Linked DNA regions of Homo sapiens: region 1 is linked to region 2. The links come from fine-mapping of genetic effects on gene expression. A gene starts in region 2. The other region holds a variant in brackets. All regions are shown on one strand. Distances are between the middles of the regions.

Region 1 (10,485 bases), 82 kb after region 2:
ACAGTCCTCTTGTCTCAGCCTCCTGAGTTGCTGGGACCACAGGTGCATACCACCACACCTGGCTGATTTTTAAATTTTTGTTTTTTAGAGATGAGGGTCTCACTATGTTGCCCAGAGTGGGATCAAACTTCTGGTCTCAAATGATCCTCCCACCTTGGCTTCCCAAAGTGCTGGGATTACCAGCACAAGCCACCATGCCTGGCCTACCCCACTTTTAAACCTAAACATACAAGAAAGAAGAATATGTAAGTTGTGACTCTCGGTATTAAACCAGTAAGGAAAATAACCCTGCATTTTAACATGAGGTGAGAAGAAATGAAAAACCCAGGCTATGGTTTTTAAAATTGGGTCGTAATGAAAAATAAGTTATGGTTTGAGATGGTTCTACTAAAAATAACTCACTCTGGATAACACAGTCTCTCATTTGTGAATACAATCTAGCTTGGTGGGAAAATGGCATGATCAAGAGTGGTGGTCAGCAAACTTTTTCTGTAACTGGCCAGATAATATTTTAAGCTATGCAGGCCACACACAGTGTGTGTGTGTGTATGTGTGTCTGTGTCTGTATTTGTGTATGCACACATTTGTTTAAAACCTTATAAAAGTAAAAACCATTCATACTTCAGTGCTGTGCAAAAACTGGGCACAGGCTACATTTGGCTGTTGGCCTATAGTTTGTGGACTCCAGACCTAGAGTCTGATGACTTGGTTTGGAGGCTCACCTGTGTAAATTGCTATTGCAGTGTGTGGCATTGACAAGTCATTTGCTTCCTTTCGTCTAACTTTCCTCACTATACGAAAGACATACTAGTACTTTACCTGTACCTATACAGTGTGTTGTGAGGAACAGAAGCAAAATTTAAAAAGTACTAGGTTATCAGTAGCAGAGACTTTGGAGCCAGACAAACCTGAGTTCAGTTTTACCACCTATTAGTTGTGTGACTTTGGGCAGGTTACTCCATCTCTGTACCTCAGGGGGCTAAAAGTAGTAAGTGCAGAGCCCTGGGCACATGGTAGACGCTCCATGCATGGTGGCCACTATTACTGTTTTTGATAAGTACTTGGAGGAGATCATACACTGCCTATGTGATGACTTATACATTGTGTCACCGTGTTGCTCACTGTGAATCTAGCCTTGATGTACATGGCATTCTTACAGAGTAATTCCTAACATTCATATTTCAAAAAAAGCTTTAAACAGCCAGCATAGTATGAGGTACAAGGGCCAGTTGCCTTGTCTGAGTCAGGAAGCTGTACTGTACCCTCACTTGTATGTTTGTGTCTTTGAAGATGTTTTACATGGAAAGTCAGTGTCAGAGTTAGACAACTTTGTTTTAGGGAGATAGTTATTAGCTGTAAGAGAGAATCAGCAGGCCAAAGGGGAAAGGGGAAGAGGTTAGTAAGTAGAAAATATTTTGGTACATCTTTCCCACATTGTATTCATTTTCACTGGCATTTGACAGGCCCTATAGGTGCTCAAACTGTCTCTGACTGTCCTATTAGCCAGAGCTTGTTGGGGCTTGTATTGTCATTCTCTGAATTGATTTATTTAATAACCAAGTATTTATTGAGCTCCTATGTACTGGGGATAGAAATGAACTCATCATCATTCCTGCCTTCAAGGAATACAGTATAGTAGAGGAAATGAGCACATAAACAAGTGCAGTGCCTTGTGGTGAACACTGTTAGAGTGAGCTCACTCAGCTGTGCACGTTGGCTCAGGCCTGTAATCCTAGCACTTTGGGAGGCTGAGATGGGCGGATCACCTGAAGTCAGGAGCTCGAGACCAGCCTGGCCAACATGGTGACACCCCGTCTCTACTAAAAATACAAAAATTAGCCGGGCATGGTGGCACATGCCTGTAATCCCAGTTAATGGGGAGGCTGAGGCAGGAGAATCGCTGGAACCTGGAACCTGGGAGGCAGAGGCTGCAGTGAGCTGAGATTGCGCCACTGCATTCCAGCCTCTGTCTCTGGGTGACAGAGTAAGACTCCATCTCAAAAAAAAAAAGTGAGCTCACAAGAAAATCAGTTCTGCTTATTGATTTAGGAGCTTTCTCAGGTGATTGAATTAGAAGTTAATTTGGCAAAGGGAGTTGCCTGGGCAGAGGGACACAGGTGTTGAGAGTGGTATATTGAGGACTCACAGTTACTTCATTGTGGCCAAGCCGCATTTAACAAAGTAAAGATGAGATTGAACAGGGGGGAAGGGGCGATGAGATCATGGAAGACACTGGATACTATGTTTAGGAATAGAGGGTTTCTCCCATAGGAGATGAAGGATTCAAAGTTCCTTCATGACATGCTCAGACTGTTCTAGAAGCTTGCTTTCAGAGGTGAGAGCAGATTACCATTTGTGCTGCCTGCCAGCAAGTTTCCTATAAGCTGCACAAATTCCCTGTTCCAATGCAAAGAGCTGCTTTATATATTATAATCTTAAGACCAGAGGCATTTTGGGTAGAATAGTATAGGATTAAATTCATGAAATCTTAGCCTTTAAGCAGCAATAAGATTTAGTAGCTTACTTTTTATTCCTCAAGGAATTGATTGTTAATATATGGTATCTCAGTAATAAAGATAAAAATAAAACAAAACAAAATATCTGTTTAATAGGTTTGAAATTGAAATTTCTTGATCCCAACAATATTCCCAAGGCCTCAATGACAAGTGGTTTGGTTCAGCAGTTCCAACACACAGTCCTTCCCTCAGTGACTCCCTTGGCAACCCTCATCTGCACACTGATTGCCATATTGGTAAGAACTCAACAGATGGTGCTCATTTCTTGAGTTTTCTCTGCTTTTCTTTTGTCTGGCTGATTAAATTTCAACTTTCAAGCTCTTCCAACTGTAGGATAAATTTCATGCCTGTAATCCTTCTGCAGATTGAAGCATTTCCTAGCAATTCTTAGAGTAACTTTGAATACCATAAGGAAGGATTACCAGTAAAGCCTTTGTGAGAGATTCTTGCCAGTGGCTGTTAGACCATCTGTTCACCCGGGGGAAGGGAAAAAGAAAAGCCCAGAGAGGAAGAGGCATGGATCATGCTGCAGAGAAAGAAGGAAATGTTTGTGGCAGGGACATCCAGATTTGGTTTGTTTTTCTCACCGTTAGCTAAATCATCAAAATTCCAAATGTATCTGGACAGCGTGGATGTTTTGTCTTGATGGTGATAATGAGTTGAGAGAGTCGACAAAGGCTTTTTGAGCCTAAGATGAGCCTAATATGAGTAAGATGCTCTTAGAGGCCTCATTCTAAGTACTTTAGAAACTTTAATTTCTAAAATTTCATTAGTGATTGCAGTGACCTCAATTTCATGGTATAATTTTAGTAGAATTCAATATAAACAACTCAATCCTATCGATAATTACACTCATCTTTAATTTTGGTTTCTGAATGTTTCAAACCTGCTAGCAACCACCTGATTCCACTTAATTACATGACAGTACAGGTATGTAGATAATTAAGCTCTGTTGGGCTGTTTGTTCACATATTTTAATTGAGGTAAAACATTTTTCCTAAAATTTCAGCCTTATGAGGTACATATAGTTTCTATGGCCTTCCAGCCAATAAAACTAAGTATTTATTAATATGGTAAATCTAATTTATTGGCTCAAAAGCATCTATGGACTTCTGTAGTTTGACCTATTAGGTTCATTAATAAATGAACTATTAGTAAACTAATTATGAAGATGTAATAAGTTGTTAGACTGTACATCCCAGAACTTAATTATTAATTTTGATAGTATAATTAATTTCTTTTTTTTTTGAGACAGAGTCTCACTCCGTCATCCAGGCTGGAGTGCAGTGGCGATTCTCCTGCCTCAGCCTCCCAAGTAGCTGGGATTACAGGCGCCTGCCACTGCACCCAGCTAATTGTTTTGCAGTAGTTTTGTTTTTGTTTTTGTTTTTGTTTTTTGAGACGGGAGTCTTGTTCTGTTGCCAGGCTGGAGTGTAGTGGTACGATCTCAGCTCACTGCAACCCCCACCTCCTGGGTTCAAGCGATTCCCCTGCTTCAGCCTCCTGAGTAGCTGGAACTACAGGCATGCACCACCACGCCCGGCTAATTTTTTTTGTATTTTAGTAGAGACAGGGTTTCACCATGTTGTCCAGGATGGTCTCGATCTCCTGACCTCGTGATCCGCCCACCTCGGCCTCCCAAAGTGCTGGGATTATAGGCCTGAGCCACCACACCCGGCCTTTTTTGTAGTTTTTAGTAGAGACAGGGTTTCACCATCTTGGCCAGGCTGGTCTTGAACTCCTGACCTCGTAATCGACTTGCATCAGCCTCCCAAAGTTCTGGGATTACAGGCGTGAGTCACTAGGCCCGGCCAATTTTTTTTTTTTTTTTTTTTTTTGAGACAGTCTCGGTCTGTCACCTAGGCTGGAGTGCAGTGGCGCAATTTCAGCTCACTGCAACCTCTGCCTCCCAGGTTCAAGCGATTCTCCTGCCTCAGCCTCCAGAGTACCTGGGAATACAGGTATGTACCACCACGCCCAGCTAGTTTTTTTTGTATTTTTAGTAGAGATGGGGTTTCACTATGTTGGTCAGGCTGTTCTTGAACTCCTAACCTCAAGTGATCTGCCTGCCTTGGCCTCCCAAAGTGCTGGGATTATAGGCATGAGCCACCATGCCCAGCCAGTAGAATTAATTTTAATGAGTTAAATATATACATCAAGGCTAGGTGCGGTGGCTCAAACCTGTAATCCCAGCACTTTGGGAGGCCAAGGCAGGCAGATCACGAGGTCAGGATTTTGAGACCAGCCTGGCCAACATGGTGAAACCCCGTCTCTATTAAAAATACAAAAATTAGCTGGGCGTGGTGGCAGGCACCTGTAATCCCAGCTACTTGGGAGGTTGAG[G/A]CAGGAAAATCGCTTGAACCCAGGAGGTGGAGGTTGCAGTGAGCCGAGATCGCACCACTGCACTCCAGCCTTGGCAACAAAGCGAGACTCCGTCTCAAAAAAACAAAAAATTATATATATATATATATATATATATTTACATATAAAATATATTTATTTACATATAAAAATATATATATACACATCAAATGCCAATTTTTTCTGAGTTGTTGCTTTTATGTTAACTTTTGTTAGACTGTGCACAAAGTGATGAATGATTCGGTTTCATGAAGAATTGTCTAAGATTGGCTGTCTTTCAGAGATGATGCAAATTGTATTCACCTGAACTCTGTTTCTGTAAAGTCTGTTTCAAATGATACTGAAGTTTATCTTTGCCTGTTGTTTCTAGCCCTCTATTTTCTGTCTTTGGTTTAAACCCCAAGGGCCCAGAGGCTTTCTCCGATGTCTAACTCTTTGTGCCTTGAGCTCCTTTATGTTTGGGTGGCATGTTCATGAAAAAGCCATACTTCTAGCAATTCTCCCAATGAGGTAAGCAGATAGCTCAGCCAGTGAGCATTTTGGCATATTTCACAATGATCCTATTTTCTATTTGCTCTGTCCCTTCTTGTCATGTTCACCAGGATAGGCAAAAACAAAGATGTATAGGAACAGATGTCCACTAGGACAGGACAGGGATGCTTAACTTGAGATTCTTGGACCCATGAAGGTATGCAAAAATGCATGTACTATTTCTGTTTCTGCGTTTTTGGAAAGAAGCACTGTAGTGATTAAGTACCATGAAAGCCGGCTTTTAGATCTGATCATTGAGGGACAGTATGTTATAGAAAAAACCTGGGCTGGCCGGGCGCGGTAGCTCACGCCTGTAATCCCAGCACTTAGGGAGGCCAAGGCGGGCAGATCACGAGGTCAGGAGATCGAGACTATCCTGGCTAACATGGTGAAACCCCATCTCTACTAAAAATACAAAAAATTAGCTGGGCATAGTGGCACATGCCTGTAGTCCCAGCTACTCGGGAGGCTGAGGCAGGAGAATTGCTTGAACCCGGGAGGAAGAGGTTGCAGTGAGCCGAGATCGCACCACTGCATTCCATTCTGGGTGACCGAAGGAGACTCTGTCTCAAAAATGAAAAAAAGAAAAAACTTGGGCTTTGGTGTCATCCCGTCTGAAAATAAGGTCCCATGGTTCCTTGTTAAGTGTTGTTAGTCAAAGTAAGGATTTAGTCTATTCTGGAATAATACCTGATACTGTACTACATTTCAGATTTTCCAGAACTGTTTTTGTTTTGCATTCTTTCTTTTGCGCCTCACAATAATCTTTAAGATAATTGGCCAGGCATGGTGGCTCACATCTGCAATCCCAGTACTTTCGGAGGCTGAAGCGGTGGTTCACTTGATGCCAGGAGTTTGAGATCAGCCTGGCCAACATGGCAAAATCCCATCTCTACTAAAAATACAAAAATTAGCCAGGCATGGTGGTGCATGCCTGTAATCCCAGCTACTTGGGAGGCTGAGGCATGAAGATCCTTTGAACCTGGGAGGTGAAGGTTGCAGTGAGCCAAGATGGCGCCACTGCACTCCAGCCTGGGGCAATAGAGTGAGACCCTGTCTCAAAAAAAGAAAAAAAAAAAAGATAGTTAAAATAAATGGGTATTATTCCCTTTTTTTTCCTTTCTTTTTTTTTTTTTTACTTTTTGGTAGAGACAGGGTCTTGCCATGTTGCCTAGGCTGGTCTCAAACTACTGGGCACAAGCAGTCTTCCTACCTCAGCCTCCCAAAGTGCTGGGATTGCAGATGTGAGCCAACAAAACAGGCTTATTCCCTGTCTTAACATCTGAAGAATCTAGGGCTCAAAATGTTTGTGACTTGTCCAAAGTCATACAGGTCGCAAGAATTAGAGTTAGGACCTGAATCTTATGATGTTGAATCTATGATCTTTTCACTATGCCATGCTAAAAAAACCATTTTAAATGTAAGTGTCCAGTTTAGGCATAGTTGAAACCCAATAGATAAATAAATGGTAATAATAGCCTCTTTCTTTATATTTTTCTTGAATCTTGAGAAATCATTTAAGCTCTGAACATATATTAAGCAAATTTGTCAGGCCAGTATGTGGCTTGTCTGGGTTTATTTAGCAGCTTGGAGTTTCCAAATTAAAAAGTAAAGCAAAAACTTTTAATGTCTTTAGTCTGAATTCACACCAAACACCAGCAGGTGAAGGGCATTGTCCAAGAGATGAGCTATAGGGTTGGAAATGAAACTCCAAGTCCTGTTTCCCTGACTGCCACCACTAGGCAGCTCCCAATCCCACAACATTCCTGTCTTTGGAGAAGGCAATTACTCAGGGAAGCAAGATTCTTTTTTTTTTTTTTTTGAGACAGAGTCTCGCTCTGTTGCCCAGGCTGGAGTGCAGTGGCGCGATCTCGGCTCACTGCATCCTCTGCCTCCCAGGTTCAAGCAATTCTCCTGCCTCAGCCTCCTGAGTAGCTGGGATTACAAGCACCCGCCACCATGCCCAGCTAATTTTTGTATTTTTAGCAGAGACAGGGTTTCACCATGTTGGCCAGGCTGCTCTTGAATTCCTGACCTCAGGTGATCCTCCCGCCTCGGCCTCCCAAAGTGCTGGGATTAAAGGCATGAGCCACTGTCCCCGGCCAGAAGCAAGATTCTTTTACGATACCCCTGATTCAGTTTGATACATGCTATTGATTGCTTAAAATTTCCTACTAAAAAATTAATATTCTCAACTAAATTGAACTTGTGCCAAAATCAGCATGTTCTTCTATGCCTCAGCCAGTTCTAATGTAATAGGAGATGCAGTTTATTTAAGCTATTTGCAAGTGTAATAACAGTTGTTGTTTTAAGAAATTATTTTTATTTTTAGCCTTTTGTCTGTGGGAAAAGCAGGAGACGCTTCGATTTTTCTGATTCTGACCACAACAGGACATTATTCCCTCTTTCCTCTGCTCTTCACTGCACCAGGTAAACAGCGTCTTCTGAGAAAAATATATTTGACTATCACAACCTTTTCATCGAGGCCCACAGATTAATACATCTAATTTAAACAACTCTAAAATCTCTTGGATAGAGATCATTCATCCTCTTAAATAAAACCTCCAATTTCCTGTAATTCTCAGCATCTCTAGATGTCACAAAAATGTAAAATTAAACTTAAAAAGTATTATTAGCACTATATAGCTGTGTCAGTGTGCTTATATTACTTTCAGCATCATAAGTCTTTCTGTCATCAGCTAAATTATCTTTTTTTTTCTATTCTTTTAACAGAACTTCCCATTAAAATCTTACTCATGTTACTATTCACCATATATAGTATTTCGTCACTGAAGACTTTATTCAGGTAATCAAAAAAATGTTTAAAATTATACTTACTCTTGTGAAATGTTTACACCTAAGTGGTCAAATAAGCTCTTTAAATTTTATTTTTAAGTTATAACAGTAATATGACAACATTACAAAAAAAATTGGTAAATAGAGGGAGAAATCACTCAATCCCATCACTCAGTCGAGACAACATAGTTTGTGTCTTTAGTTTGGGGGAGTATTTGAGGAGGACTACTTAAATTAAAATCCTATATGAAAACTCAAAAACTGAATGTAAAATATGCTTTATGAATAAAACTATTAAATACAGATAGATATGGAAAAAACTAAAAGATACTATGTACAAATTTTTTTTGTTCGTTTTTTTGAGACGGAGTTTTGCTCTTGTTGCCCAGGCTGGAGGGCAATGGCGTGATCTCGGCTCACCACACCCTCCGCCTACCGGGTTCAAGCTATTCTCCTGCCTCAGCCTCCCAAGTTACTGGGATTACAGGCATGCGCCACCATGCCCAGCTAATTTTTTTTTTTTTGGAGACGGAGTTTCACTCTTGTCGCCCAGGCTGGAGTGCAGTGGCGCGATCTCCACTCACTGCAACTTCCGCCTCCTGGGTTCAAGCGATTCTCCAGCCTCAGCCTCCTGAGTAGCTGAGATTATAGGTATGCATCACTACCACACCTGGCTAATTTTTTATATTTTTAGTAGAGGTGGGGTTTCACCATGTTGGCCAGGCTGCTCTCGAGCTCCTGACGTCAGGTGATCCACTTACCTTGGCCTCCCATAGTGCTGGAAGTACAGGCGTGAGCTGCTGTGCCCGGCTAATTTTGTATTTTTATTAGAGATGGGGTTTCTCTGTGTTGGTCAGGCTGGTCTTGAACTCCCAACCTCAGGTGATCCACCCACCTCGGCCTCCCAAAGTGCTGGGATTACAGGCGTTGAGCCACCGCACCCAACTATGTACAAATTTTACTACAGAATTATAGATGGAAACTTTTTCTCTTCTAAACTGTATGTAATGTTAACTATAATTTTTTTTTTTTTTTTTTGAGACGGAGTTTCACCCTTGTTGCCCAGGCTGGAGTGCAATGGCACGATCTCAGCTAACTGAAACCTCCGCCTCCCAGGTTCAAGCGATTCTCCTGCCTCAGCCTCCCTAGCAGCTAGGATTACAAGCATGCGCCACCACACCCAGCTGATTTTGTATTTTTAGTAGAGATGGGTTTCTCCATGTTGGTCAGGCTGGTCTCAAACTCCTGACCTCAGGTGATCCACCGTCCTTGGCCTCCCAAAGTGCTGGCATTACAGGTGTGAGCCACCATGCCCGGCCAACTGTAATTTTTTAAAGCTTGCTTATGGTTCATAACTGTGTCCATAAAAACTTATATAATTAACTATGTTAAAATGCAGTTATAGCCATGTGACCCAGCAATTCCACCCCTATACCCAAAAGAATGGAAACAGGGACTCAACAGATACTTGTACATCAGTATTCATTGTAGCATTATTCATACTAGCTAAAAGATGGAAACAACCCAATGTCCATCAACAAATACATGATAAAGTGTGATATATACATATAGTGGATTATTCAGCCAAAGAAAAGAATGAAGTTCCAATACATGCTACATGAATGAATCTTGAAAACATGCTAAGTGAAAGAAACGAGAGAATAGAACAAATATCATATCGTTCCACTGATAGGAAATTCTAGAATAAACAAACATAGAGACAGAAAGTAGATTAGAGGTTGAGGGAACAGGGGGATGGGAAGTTATTGTTAATGGTTCCAGAGTTTCTGTTTGGGGTCACGAAAATATTTTGAAGGTGGATAGTGGCGATGGGCGCATATTATTGATCTACTTAATACCATCAAACTGTATACTTAAAAATGGTTAAACAAATAGCAAATTTCATGTTATATATATTTTACCAAAATAAAAAATATTTTAAAAATCTGGTGAAACCTTGTCTCTATAGAAAATACAAAAATTAGCTGGGCATGGTGGCAGGCGCCTGTAATCCCAGCTACTTGGGAGGCTGAGGCAAGAGAATCGCTTGAACCCAGGAGGTGGAGGTTGCAGTAAGCTGAGATTGCACCACTGCACTCCAGTCTGGGTGACAGAGCAACGCTCCATCTCAAAAAGAAAATTTTTTTTAAATCTTCAATTCTATATTGTTTCTCATGTTCTTATTCCAATGTCACAGCACCCAACCCCTTTACCTCTTTCAAATGCAGAACTAATTCTCTCTGAGCAGCTTGAGCTAAATAACAGCATAGGTCAATGGTGG
Region 2 (11,154 bases):
AGCTGGAAAGTTTTATTCAGAATCACAGATATTCTGGAACCCCAACTATGTACTAGACCCAGTGAGCTCCCTGCTCTGTTCTAGTTCTCAGCTGTGACCTAACCTCCATTGCTGCACGTGTTACGATACAAAGGGCCCATTTGTTTAAATATCTGTCTCTCTCACCAGGCTGAGCTCCACCAGGAAAGGACCAGGGTTTATTAGTCTGTGGCTAGCATCTCTCATGCCAAGAGTGTGTGCCTCTTAAGAGTTCACTGTTGGTTAGAGGTTGTAACCATGGCAGACATCAGTGGTTCCCAAATCCTGGCCTGCTCAGAAGCCTCAGAATGCCTCAGAAGCACCTGGGCACCTGCTACAAGCTCAGATGCGGCCGGGCGCGGTGGCTCACGCCTGTAGTCCCAACACTTTGGGAGGCCAAGGCAGGCAGATCACTTGAGCCCAGGAGTTCAACACCAGCCAAGGGTGGTGGCGAGCCCAGGAGGTCAAGGGTGAAGTAAGGCAAGATCGTGCCACTGCACTCCAGCCTAAGTGATAGAGTGAGACCCTGTCTCAAAAAAAGAAAAGAAAAAGTTCAGGGTCCACCCGAAGCTTCCTGAATGAGGAAATGAGGGAAATGATGTGTTCGATTCTGGGTTTTGTTGTTGTTGTTGTTGTTTTTGACTCTTTGAATGTGGCTCATCTGGGATACATTCTGGTTCCCATAAAGGTTACTTAGGCTCTCTGAGCTGGGCACAAGGAAGTTCTCAGAAAATGTCAACTCCTGTTGCTTCAGAAGCAAAGTCCTTGCCTTGAAGGAGCTTCCAGTCAGATGGGGGAGGCAGAAATGTTTGTAAGGGTGCCCCTGCAAGGTATAATCTCAAAAGGCCTATAAAGTGTCTTTAAAAACTGGTCTCCCAGCTGGGCACAGTGGCTCATGTCTGTAATCTTAGCACTCTGGGAGGCCGAGGTGGGGAGATGGCTTGAGCTCAGGAGGTTGAGACCAGCCTGGGCAACATGGCAAAACCCCATCTCTACAAAAAAAAAAAAAAAAAATTACATCAATTAGCCAGGCGTAGTGTCTCACACCTGCAGTCCCAGCTAGTTGGGGCTGAGACAGGAGGCTCACTTGAGCTTGGGAGGCGAAGGTTGCAGTGAGCTGAGATCACGCCACTGCACTCCAGCCTGGGTGACTAAGTGAGTTCCTGTTTCAAAAAAGAAAAAAGAAAAAAAATTTTTTTAACTCTCCCTTCAGCCCTGGTCCCCTTTCTAGGCAGTGCCCGTGACAAGGCAGTTGCTGTGGCCAACCTCCCCCACACAAACAGTCCATCCTCCCAGACCCCTGGGATGGCTAGTGGATTTCATATGCTTTCAACCCAGGATGCCAAGAAATCCTGGTACTCAGGCAGCCAAGAAGAAACCCTAATCCATGAGGCACTGGCATCATGTGTGAAGCAAGAGGGCATGGGGGCAGGCAGAAATGGAGTTCTGGAGACAGGGAAGACTCTGGTAGTAGAAAGAGTACTAGAAAGAGTAGAAAGAGTATCAGACTAGGAATGAGGAGTCCTACATTCTAGCCCTGACTCATTGTGTGACCCTCAGTAAATCATACCCATGAGCCTCTTTTCTGTAAAATGGGGACAAATGCTATTAGACTGAACCGCATGAAACCGAATGATCAAATGTTGGCAATTTCATGTTGTTCTACCTAACACCACATAAGCCTGGCAGCTGACAGTTCAAATAGAGCTGCTCCATGAGAGCTCTGATCTCCAAGGCCAGCCGGCAGCCTCTGCTCAGTCCGTAGCCTGGCCACAGCAAGCAAGCCCTGCCCACCTGCCCCAACTCCCACGCAGGCAGTCTGAGGACAGCTGTCACCATGGTCACCAGCAAACCCACTCAATATCTTGCATGCACTCAGACAAAAGGGTTTTAGAGGCTTGCACCTCACCTGGCCCCATCAGGCCAGGGAAGGGAGGACAAGGCCAGCTATCCCACTGGCAGGAATGAAGAAAGTGAGGCTCAGAGAGAGGAACATGGCCTTGGCAAAGCAGGATTAGAACCTGCACTCTGCCTCCCTCAGGAGGGCTGGATTAGCCTGCTAAGCCCCGGGTGAGGAGATGGCCTGTCCATGCTGGCTCTGACTCAAGAGACAGCTGCCCCGCACCAACCGCAGCAGCAAACAGCAGCCATGTCCTCCCCGAGGAGAGCCTGTGTTAAAAGCTGAAGATACAGGTTTTCTGCTTCAAAGTCATGGTGACCTTGGGTGAGCCCCTGCCTGGCTTCTTAGCCTTCTCATCTGGAAAATGGGGACTATTCCAAGCCTACCATTCACAGGGTTGAGACAAGGTATAAAAAAGATGAGGTCCTCATTAACACGGTGAAACCCCATCTCTACTAAAAATACAAAAAATTAGCCGGGCGTGGTGGCGGGCACCTGTAGTCCCAGCTACTCAGGAGGCTGAGGCAGGAGAATGGCGTGAACCCAGGAGGCGGAGCTTGCAGTGAGCCGAGATCATGCCACTGCACTCCAGCCTGGGGGACAGAGCAAGACTCCGTCTCAAAAAAAAAAAAAAAAAAAAGATGAGGGCCGGGCTGTCATGAGTCTATTTTTGGGCCACCTGGCACTGATGGGAGACACAGATACTGTCAGGGAAAGGAGACAAGGAGACACGCACTGCTGATCCTGCTGATTCTCCAAGGCATTTCCTCCATTAGCCCTCCCTGCCACTTCGGTGTTCCCAGCCCCACCCAGGATCAGACCCCTTGACTTCTTGCCTGGACTAGTGCAGTAGCCTCCTAACCCATCTCCCAATTCCCTCCCTCAATCCATCCTCCAACAGAGGCATGTGTCCTAGAGGAGAACAGAGTCCAGGCTTCGAGTCTAGCCCAGCCACCATGGAGGTAGGTGTTCTTTTACCTCTGTGATCCTCGGAATGCCCAAATAGAAGGTGACTACGTGCCCACCCCTTAGCCTTTCCCAGCCAGCGCTGCTGCTCCTCCCAAGCCCTTGCCTCATACCCCTCGCCCTACTGGCATGACAGCCTGAGGGGCGTCCCAGCAACACCAGCACACTCCAAGGCACGCAGTGAGCACTCAGGAAAATCCCAATCCCTCTGCCAAAAGGCCCAGATCCTTTCACCTGTTCCTCTCGGATGACCCTCAACATTTCTGCCGAGTGTTGACTGATCTCTGCTCCTGCACAGTTGAGCCTGACTTATCTCCATCACCCCAAAGCACCCTGTGTGTGTGTGTGTATGTGTGTGTACACAACTCCTATGCTCAGCCCCACTGCCACGCCCTGGGCCCCCGCTCAAGCTTCATCATCCCTCCTTGGTCTCTCCAGATGCAGCATCGTCAGATGGAGCTTATTACACGGTAAGCACCATTCCGTCCATGCCCCTGCTCAGAACTCTCAACACTCTCCAGCCCCTTGGACCCAGAATAAGGTCCAAACTCCTGAGCCGGACATGCAAGCCCTTTCTGTGACACTCAGCTGATGTGGGGCAGGGGTGGAGATGAACTCAAGCAACATTGTTCAGTGGAGACTCTGCAGACATTGGAGCAGGGGGCTTTTTCCTGACTGCTACTTTGCACAATGTCCCCTCTACTGAAAAAGGGCTTTTCCCTCTTCTCTCCTGGAAAATTCTGACTCACCCTTCAATGCCCAGCTCACATGCCCTCTCCTCTGGGAAGCCTTTCCTTTTCCCTCCACAATTCAAGTGTCTAAAGTTCTGGCCTCCAAGGCCCTCTTAGCTATTCTCATCCCTCTGCAGCATAACTGGAATCCATGTCTCTGTCTCCCACCAGGCTGGGACCTCCCTTGGCAGAGGTCCAATCCCCGTCTCTGAGCCCAGTGCCCAGTACAGAACCAAGGACTGAGGTGTCCGTGAAGGTGCGTCAAGCAACTCATGAGAGACATGTGACAGCAAGATGAGAGAAAACCAAAGATGTAACCACAAAAGTACCTTCCAGAAACTGGCCTAACCTTTGGTCCAGTCACCACCCCCTCCTTTGCCCAGGCCTGGTCTTGCATATCAAAAACCCTGAAAATCTTAAACATCAGTCAAGAAAGCCCCTACAGAGGTCACTGGACTGGACTGAGGCTTTAGCCATTCTAGAAATTGTTCAAACAACCAAAGCAAAAGAAAAAGCACAAAACAAAAACAAAACAAAACAAAACAAAAATCTGTTCCTGGTTAGCCTTCAGGTCAAAAGCTCACAGAATCTCCTAGGACCTGAGAAGAAGGCTTCATGGTGTTACTCAACCTCTCCCTGCTCCAGGTCAGAGCAGCCCCTCCCAGCCTCTGCTCAGCACCTAAGAGCTGAGGAGCACATTTCCTCCCCTCTCTGACCCTCGAAGCCAGCCTCCCTCCTTTGACTCCCCTGGGAGCCAGAGCTTCCTTGGGGGTACCAGGCTGCCCCTCCCGACACCAGGTGGTGCCCTCCATCTCTGGCCCCTCAGGTGTCTGAATGGCAGCATCTCTCTAGGTATTTTTTAACTGAACTTCTACCCAAGGCAACCCTGGGAAGAAGTGCTTCACCCTACTCCGGGAGGCCCATGTCTGGGCCACCAAACTGTCTCCTGGAAAGAAAAAGAAAAAAGGGTTTCACTGGTAAAAAGCAGCTGCTCTTCCTCAAAGGATAAGGAGGAGAGAGAAGGGAAGAAAGCAGGAGCAGCTATTCCTCCTCAGGAACCCACCACACACACCTATCCCTGCGGGGCCACCCCTCACAAACCTGTGAGGGCCGCACTCCACCCCAAGCTTTCTGGAAGGAAGGGCACCAAGCTGACACATCAGGGTCTCCGGTTTGCAAGGGCCAGGGCCGTAAGAGGGGGTTGGGGAGGGTATCCCAGGGCCCAGCACACTGAGAATAGGAAAAGCCCATTCCAAGCAATGGTGGCCTCGGGCCCCCCAGTTTGTGCCACCTCCCTCCCTCCAGTGCACCCGCGCCCAGCCCACGCTTGAGCTGGAGGGCCCCACGAAAAGCCAGCAAGCGAATGTACTAGGTACTGGGTGCGAATGCCCTCTTACCTGAAAGGGGAGGGAGCAGGATCACTTCGACATACAATTGATGAAGGGAGGGGATTAATGCCCAGAGAGGAATAGCTACTCGCCCAAGGTCACACAGTGAGGCCCAGGAGGCCCAGGATGCACCCAGATCTCCCGACTCCCAGCCCTGGGCTCGCAAGTCCAGGGTTCTCGAAAGGCCAGGGTGCAGACACCGCCCCCCAAAGACAGTCACACGCCCCCAACCCCCTTACCTCCCGGACCCCGGTGGGCCAGAGCCGGCTGCTGGGCGGGGCGCTCAGGCCGGGCAGGACGAGGCTGGGCCCGGCTAGGTCAGGGCTGGTCCTCTGCTCCCCCCAGGGTGGGGACGCCCTCAGCCAGGTCCCAGACGGAAGAGATGCTGCTTCCACTGCAAAATCCAGTCTTCCCACCCCGCCTGGCACAAGCCTCTATGTATCCAGGAAGCCCGACTCTGCGGCGCGGCCCCGGGGCTGCGGGATGAAGCATGGGGAGGGGCGAGGTGCGTGAAATGGGGCGGAGCCGGAGCGGGGGCCACCCCGCGAGCTGCCACTCTGACCGCGTCCCCTTTAAGGCCAGCCGGCCGGACACCGGCGGGGACGAGGCGGGGCGCAGAGCAACTCGCTGCAATGCCTCCTGGGAGATGGAGTTCGCTCTCGACGCGCCGAGCTGCGAGGAGCCCAGAGAGAACTACCAGTCCCGGAAGGCAGCGCACAGACCCCGGACCGCCACGCCCCTGGGCTGGGCTCCTACCCTCCGCCCCCCTCGCAAAGCTGCGCTGGCCGCTCGCGGAGGGAGAGGCTGCAGAGCGAGGGCAGGAGGTGGGTGCGGCACGGCCGGGGTCGCGGGGCTCGGGGACTACCGGCGAGGGTACGTGGGCCCACTGAGCACCTGTCTTACCATGAGACTAATCTATCCCAGCCTCGCCATTCCCATCTGTGAAATGGGGATGGCATCGCCTGTGGTGCGGGGGAGGGGGCGCGTTTCGGAGCGAGGTGAGCCGAAGTGGGCAGAGCTCTTAGAGGGGCGGGGCTGTTGGGAGAGCAAGGGCGGATGGTGATAGTCGGAAAAGCCCGGATAATGAGGGTCGGGACTGTGGGAGGAGTCCTTGGTGGGTGGGGCAAGGAGAGGCGGGATCTCTAGGTGGGGGTGGGGCACTTGTCAGGTCGGAGTGGGGGCTGTAGGGCTGGGGAGTGGGTGCGGAACAAGCCGATGAGGCCAGCCTGGGTGAGATTGGGGAAGGAAGGGCGGAGACACAGATGACAGGGAACTTGCCCCGCTCTGGAGAGCCCTGGGCCGGCCGCGCTGTGGCGGCGTGGGCAAAAGCCTGTGATGCATAGAACACCTCCCTTTACTGACTGGAAATAAAGAGTCCATCCCCGAGTTCAGTGCGGCACACCAGTGATCTCATTGACCTCCCACGCCCTGAAAAGTAGAGGCGTCACTATAGCGGTTGACAGGTGAGGAATGTGAGGCTCAGAAAAGCGAAGGGACTTGCCTAAAACCACTCAGGACTCCTTACTTCAAAGACCTTGCTTTTCTCCCTGCACTCGGGGAGGCAGAGGTTTAGCTTGGCGTGGGAGGCAGGAAAGAAAAGTTTTGATGCCCCGACCTTCGCAAATTGTCTGGCAGGACCAGTCCCCCCAACCCTTCCGAATGACAGCCTGTAAGGCAGCCCTCCTATAGTACTGTGAGGATGAAATGAGATGGATTTGAAAGCACGGTGTTTATAAATTACTGTTTGGAGGAGACATAGGAAGAGAGCGGTTTGAAATGGGGTGCTGGTGCCGGAGGAAAAGCACAAGGTGAAGCGTGAGAGTGAGCCGAGAAGGTGAAGGAAAGTTCTGGAAGGGGCTGGGGGATGGTAGTGGTTGTTGGAGGTCTACGCCAGATGAAAGAATACCTTGCCGTGCCAGATTCCGTGGTCTCCTTCTTCCAGCCCACCTTTCTCTCCTCCTGCCTTTTGCGCAGCTCATTCTGGGGTCCCTGTGTCTAGGAAGCACCTTTTCTCTCCTCCCTATGGGTTGTGATGGTAATAGAGCAGCCTTCGGATTTCTTAGAGATATGGACTGGGCAAGACAGAATTATAGACGCAGCTCTTTGATGTGGGGTGGTCAGGAAGAGGAGGTGAAGAAAGGGTAGTCGTCCTAGGGGCTTCAAGGCAAAGAGTCCTTTCTCCGGTGGGGTAAGGTGGGGAAGTCTCCCACTTACTGGAAAACACAGTACTCACTCTGAGCATTGTCTTTTTTGAAATTTACCCAGCCACGTGCTGTCCATTCCCTTACGCAGTGGAAACTCTCCTTGCATTTACTCCCAAGTAATCACCTCGGCCTTGTCACATCCCTTTAGATTCCAGATTGAAAATTGAACAGAGCATTTCAAAATTAAAAAGTTTTGAAAATCCAGGTGGGGAAAATGGATCTGACTAAACAGGAGAGAAATTTCTTCCTCTTCCCCTATTCTACGTGCTTCTGTGGATATAGAAAGGGGCACCCCCAGCCCCAGCAAGGGAGCCAGGCATCCATCTACTTAAGTAAAGTTGGCTGTGGTAAGGGGTTAGACTAAAATTCTCCGCAGATGCAGAGGAGAAGGAATGAATTCCAGCTGAGAGACCTGGCCGATGCATGGGATTTGTCTTCAAGGTCCAGGCAGAGGGGATGGCAGATGCCAAATTGCAGAAGTCGAAGAGGGCCCAGTATGGTTGGTCTGTAAAGTAGGTATATAATAGTATCTACTTAATCTGTGAGATTGAAAGAGATTAACATGTATAGAGTGCCTAGCACGGTAGTAACTGCTCAATAAACGTTAGCCATTATTATTGCCGTTGTAGTGTTTGTTGTTGTTATGATCATCATCATCTGCCCAGGAACGTGCCCAGGGCTGCACAGCTAGTAAGTGGCAGGGGATGATTCAAATGCAAACCCAGGTAATGCCGAATACCATGCATGGTCTGCCCCTACCCCACACAGCCTCTCCAGTTCTTTTCTTTTTTTTTTTTTTTTTTTTTTTTTTTTTTTTTTTTGAGACAGGGTCTTACTCTGTTGCCCAAGCTGGAGTGCAGTGGCGTGATCTCGGCTTGCTGCAGCCTGACCTCCCAGGCTCAAGCGATCCTCCTACCTCAGCCTGTGCAGCTGGGACTGCAAGCACGTGTTACCATGCCCAGCTAATTTTTTTTTTTCTCTATAGAAACGAGGTCTCATTATGTTGTCCAGGTGGTCTCAAACTCCTGAACTCAAGCGATCCTCCCACCTGGGCCTTCCAAGTGCTGGGATTACAGGCATGAGCCACTGAGCCTGGCCTGTCTCCAGTTCTTTCTGCCCATCCTTGACATTTCTGAGGCCCAGGAGTGGCCTCTCTTTGTCAACATTCACAGTGAGTCATGACAGGAGTTTCTTTCCTGCCGAGTTACAGAGATTCTGGGTTCATGATGAGGCAGGAAAAACAAGGCCTGAACAGCCATCTTCTTCCAGGCAGAATCACAGCACAGAAGATAGGCAGACCTGGCCGGGCGCGGTGGCTCACGCCTGTAATCCCAGCACTTTGGGAGGCTGAGGTGGGTGGATCATTTGAGGTCAGGAGCTTGAGACCAGCCTGGCCAACGTGGTGAAACCCCGTCTCTACTAAAAATACAAAAATTAGCCGGGCATGGTGGCACGCACCTGAAATCCCAGCTACTCAGGAGGCTGAGGCAGGAGAATCACTTGAACCTGGGAGGCAGAGGTCGCAGTGAGCCAGGATCACGCCACTGCACTCCAAACTGGGTGACAGAGCGAGACTCTATCTCAAAAAAAAAAAATAGGCCTAGTGGTGTGGTTTCTGTGGGTGGTGGCTCTATCCAGACTGCCCACCCAGGCTTAGATTCTAACTCCTCCACCACTTAGCCCTGGTTGGCATCCTCACCCTTCAAAATTCAGAAACACTTGGGAAGGAAAATTATGAGCTTTTCACACTTCTAAGTAGTAGTAGTAAATCTGTAACTTACTAAATCTGGCGACTTATTGGGGTCTGGCACAATGACTGTAACTTTACATCTATTGGCCCTATGAAGAAGTGTTCTTCCCCCCTCTTTTAAAATACAAATATTTTTAAAATTTTCAAGCTTACATAAAAGCTTAAAGTACAACCCTTAACCTAGATACGCCAAATCACAATTTGCCAATTGTGCTTTTACACAAACACACACTTTTTTGGCCCAATTATTTAAAAGTAAGTTACAGATATGTTGATTGACGTTTGACCCCTAAATTCTTCAACATGTATCCCCTAATAAGGGCGTTCTACTACATAGCCATAATACATTATATGTAATAAGCAAGAAGTCAGTATTACCCAATGTAATAGTTATTCAAAATTTTCTGCCAGGTGCAATGGGTCATGTCTATAACCCCAGCACTTTGGGAAGCAAAGGCAGACAGATTGCTTGAGCCCAGGAGTTCAAGGCCAGCCTGGGCAACATAGTGAAACCCCATCTCTACAAAAACTACAAAATTTAGCATGGTGTGGTAGCGTGCACCTGTAGTCCCAGCTACTTGGGAAAATCACCTGAGCCTGGGGATGTCAAGGCTGCAGTGAACCATGATCGCGCCACTGCACTCCAGCCTGGGCGACAGAGTGAGACCCTGTCTCAAGAAAAAAAAAATTCTAATTGCCCAAAAATACCTTATATAGTTTCTGGTTTTTAAAATCAGATCCAGTCAAGATGTACATATTGCATCCTATTATATCTCTTTTATCAACTCATTTAATCTAAATAGAGCCCCTTGGCATGGTAGCTCATGTCTGTAATCCCAACATTTTGGGAGGCTGAGGTGGGCAGATCACTTGAGGTCAGGAGTTCGAGACCAGCCTGGCCAACATGGTGATACCCCATCTCAAGTAAAAATACAAAAATTAGCCGGACATGGTGGTGTGTGCCTATACTCCCAGCTACTCAGGAGGCTGAGGCAAGAGAATTGCTTGAACTCAGGAGGTGGAGGTTGCAGTGAGCCGAGATTGTGCCACTGCACTCCAGCCTGGGCAACAGAGTGTGACTCTATCTCAAATAAATAAATAAATAAATAAATAGAGCTTCTCCACCTATTTAAATATGTTTGATTGGTTTATCAATGATTAGATTGGGGTTAGATTTAAGTTTTTGGCAATGTGTGTACTTACTGCATGTCAGGAGGATATGATGTCAGGGTCTTACTATCCATGAATGCTAAATTTGATTATTAAGGTCATGGCAACCTGATCTCTCTATCGTAAAGGTAAATTTTTCTCTCTTACAATTAATAAGTAATCTGTGAAGTGATTCTCTGAGTCTGTTATAATTATGTGTTCCTGATAACCTTTCACACCACATCCTTGGATGATCCTTGCTTGAATTACAACACTGAGGGTTGCAAATTGGTAATTTTCTAATTCTGCCATTCCTTCTGTGTTTATTAGTGTTCTTTTTTATAGAATTAATTTTTCCTGGCCGGGTGCGGTGGCTCACGCCTGTAATCCCAGCACTTTGGGAGGCCGAGGCGGGCGGATCACGAGGTCAGGAGATCGAGACCATCCTGGCTAACAAGGTGAAACCCTGTCTCCACTAAAAATACAAAAAATTAGCCGAGCGAGGTGGCGGGCGCCTGTAGTCTCAGCTACTCGGGAGGCTGAGGCAGGAGAATGGCGTGAACCCTGGGAGGCGGAGGTTGCAGTGAGCCGAAATCACACCACTGCACTCCAGCCTGGGCGACAGTGAGACTCCGTCTCAAAAAAAAAAAAAAAGAATTAATTTTTCCTGTCTCTATCTTTCTCACTCCCTTCTTCTCACCCTCTTTTTTCTTTTGGGAATAACATTATGGACTCTTGTTTTTTGTTTGTTTGTTTTTGAGATGGAGTCTCACTCTGTTGCCCTGGCTGGTGTGCAGTGGCACGATCTTGGCTCACTGCAACCTCCACTTCCCAGATTCAAGCGATTCTCCTGCCTCAGCCTCCCAAGTAGCTGGAATAACAGGCGCACGCCACCCCGCCCAGCTATTTTTTGTATTTTTAGTAGAGATGGGGTTTTGCCATGTTAGCCAGGCTGGTCTTGAACTCCAGACCTCAGGTGATCCGCCCGCCTCGGCCTCCCAAAGTGCTGAGATTACAGGCATGAACTACCGCACCCAGCCTGGACTCT

The links.
Region 1: its variant is fine-mapped to the expression of USP35 in whole blood (TOPMed, PIP above 0.99).

What each region holds. Positions count from the first base shown.
Region 1 is chr11:78,101,709-78,112,193 of GRCh38, reverse strand. It overlaps ALG8 (ALG8 alpha-1,3-glucosyltransferase), which reads left to right. Exons shown (of 13, transcript NM_024079.5): 9 at 2,613-2,752; 10 at 5,248-5,387; 11 at 7,741-7,838; 12 at 8,142-8,214. Among named protein-coding and RNA genes, the nearest start is that of NDUFC2-KCTD14, 27 kb to the right of the region's middle. RefSeq lists a silencer at 6,997-7,291. The variant G/A (reference allele first, on the strand shown) is at 4,860.
Region 2 is chr11:78,183,246-78,194,399 of GRCh38, reverse strand. It overlaps USP35 (ubiquitin specific peptidase 35), which reads right to left and starts at 5,481. Exons shown (of 11, transcript NM_020798.4): 1 at 5,243-5,481. KCTD21 (potassium channel tetramerization domain containing 21) reads left to right here and starts at 5,774. Exons shown (of 2, transcript NM_001029859.3): 1 at 5,774-5,827. RefSeq lists silencers at 5,128-5,287, 5,718-6,057.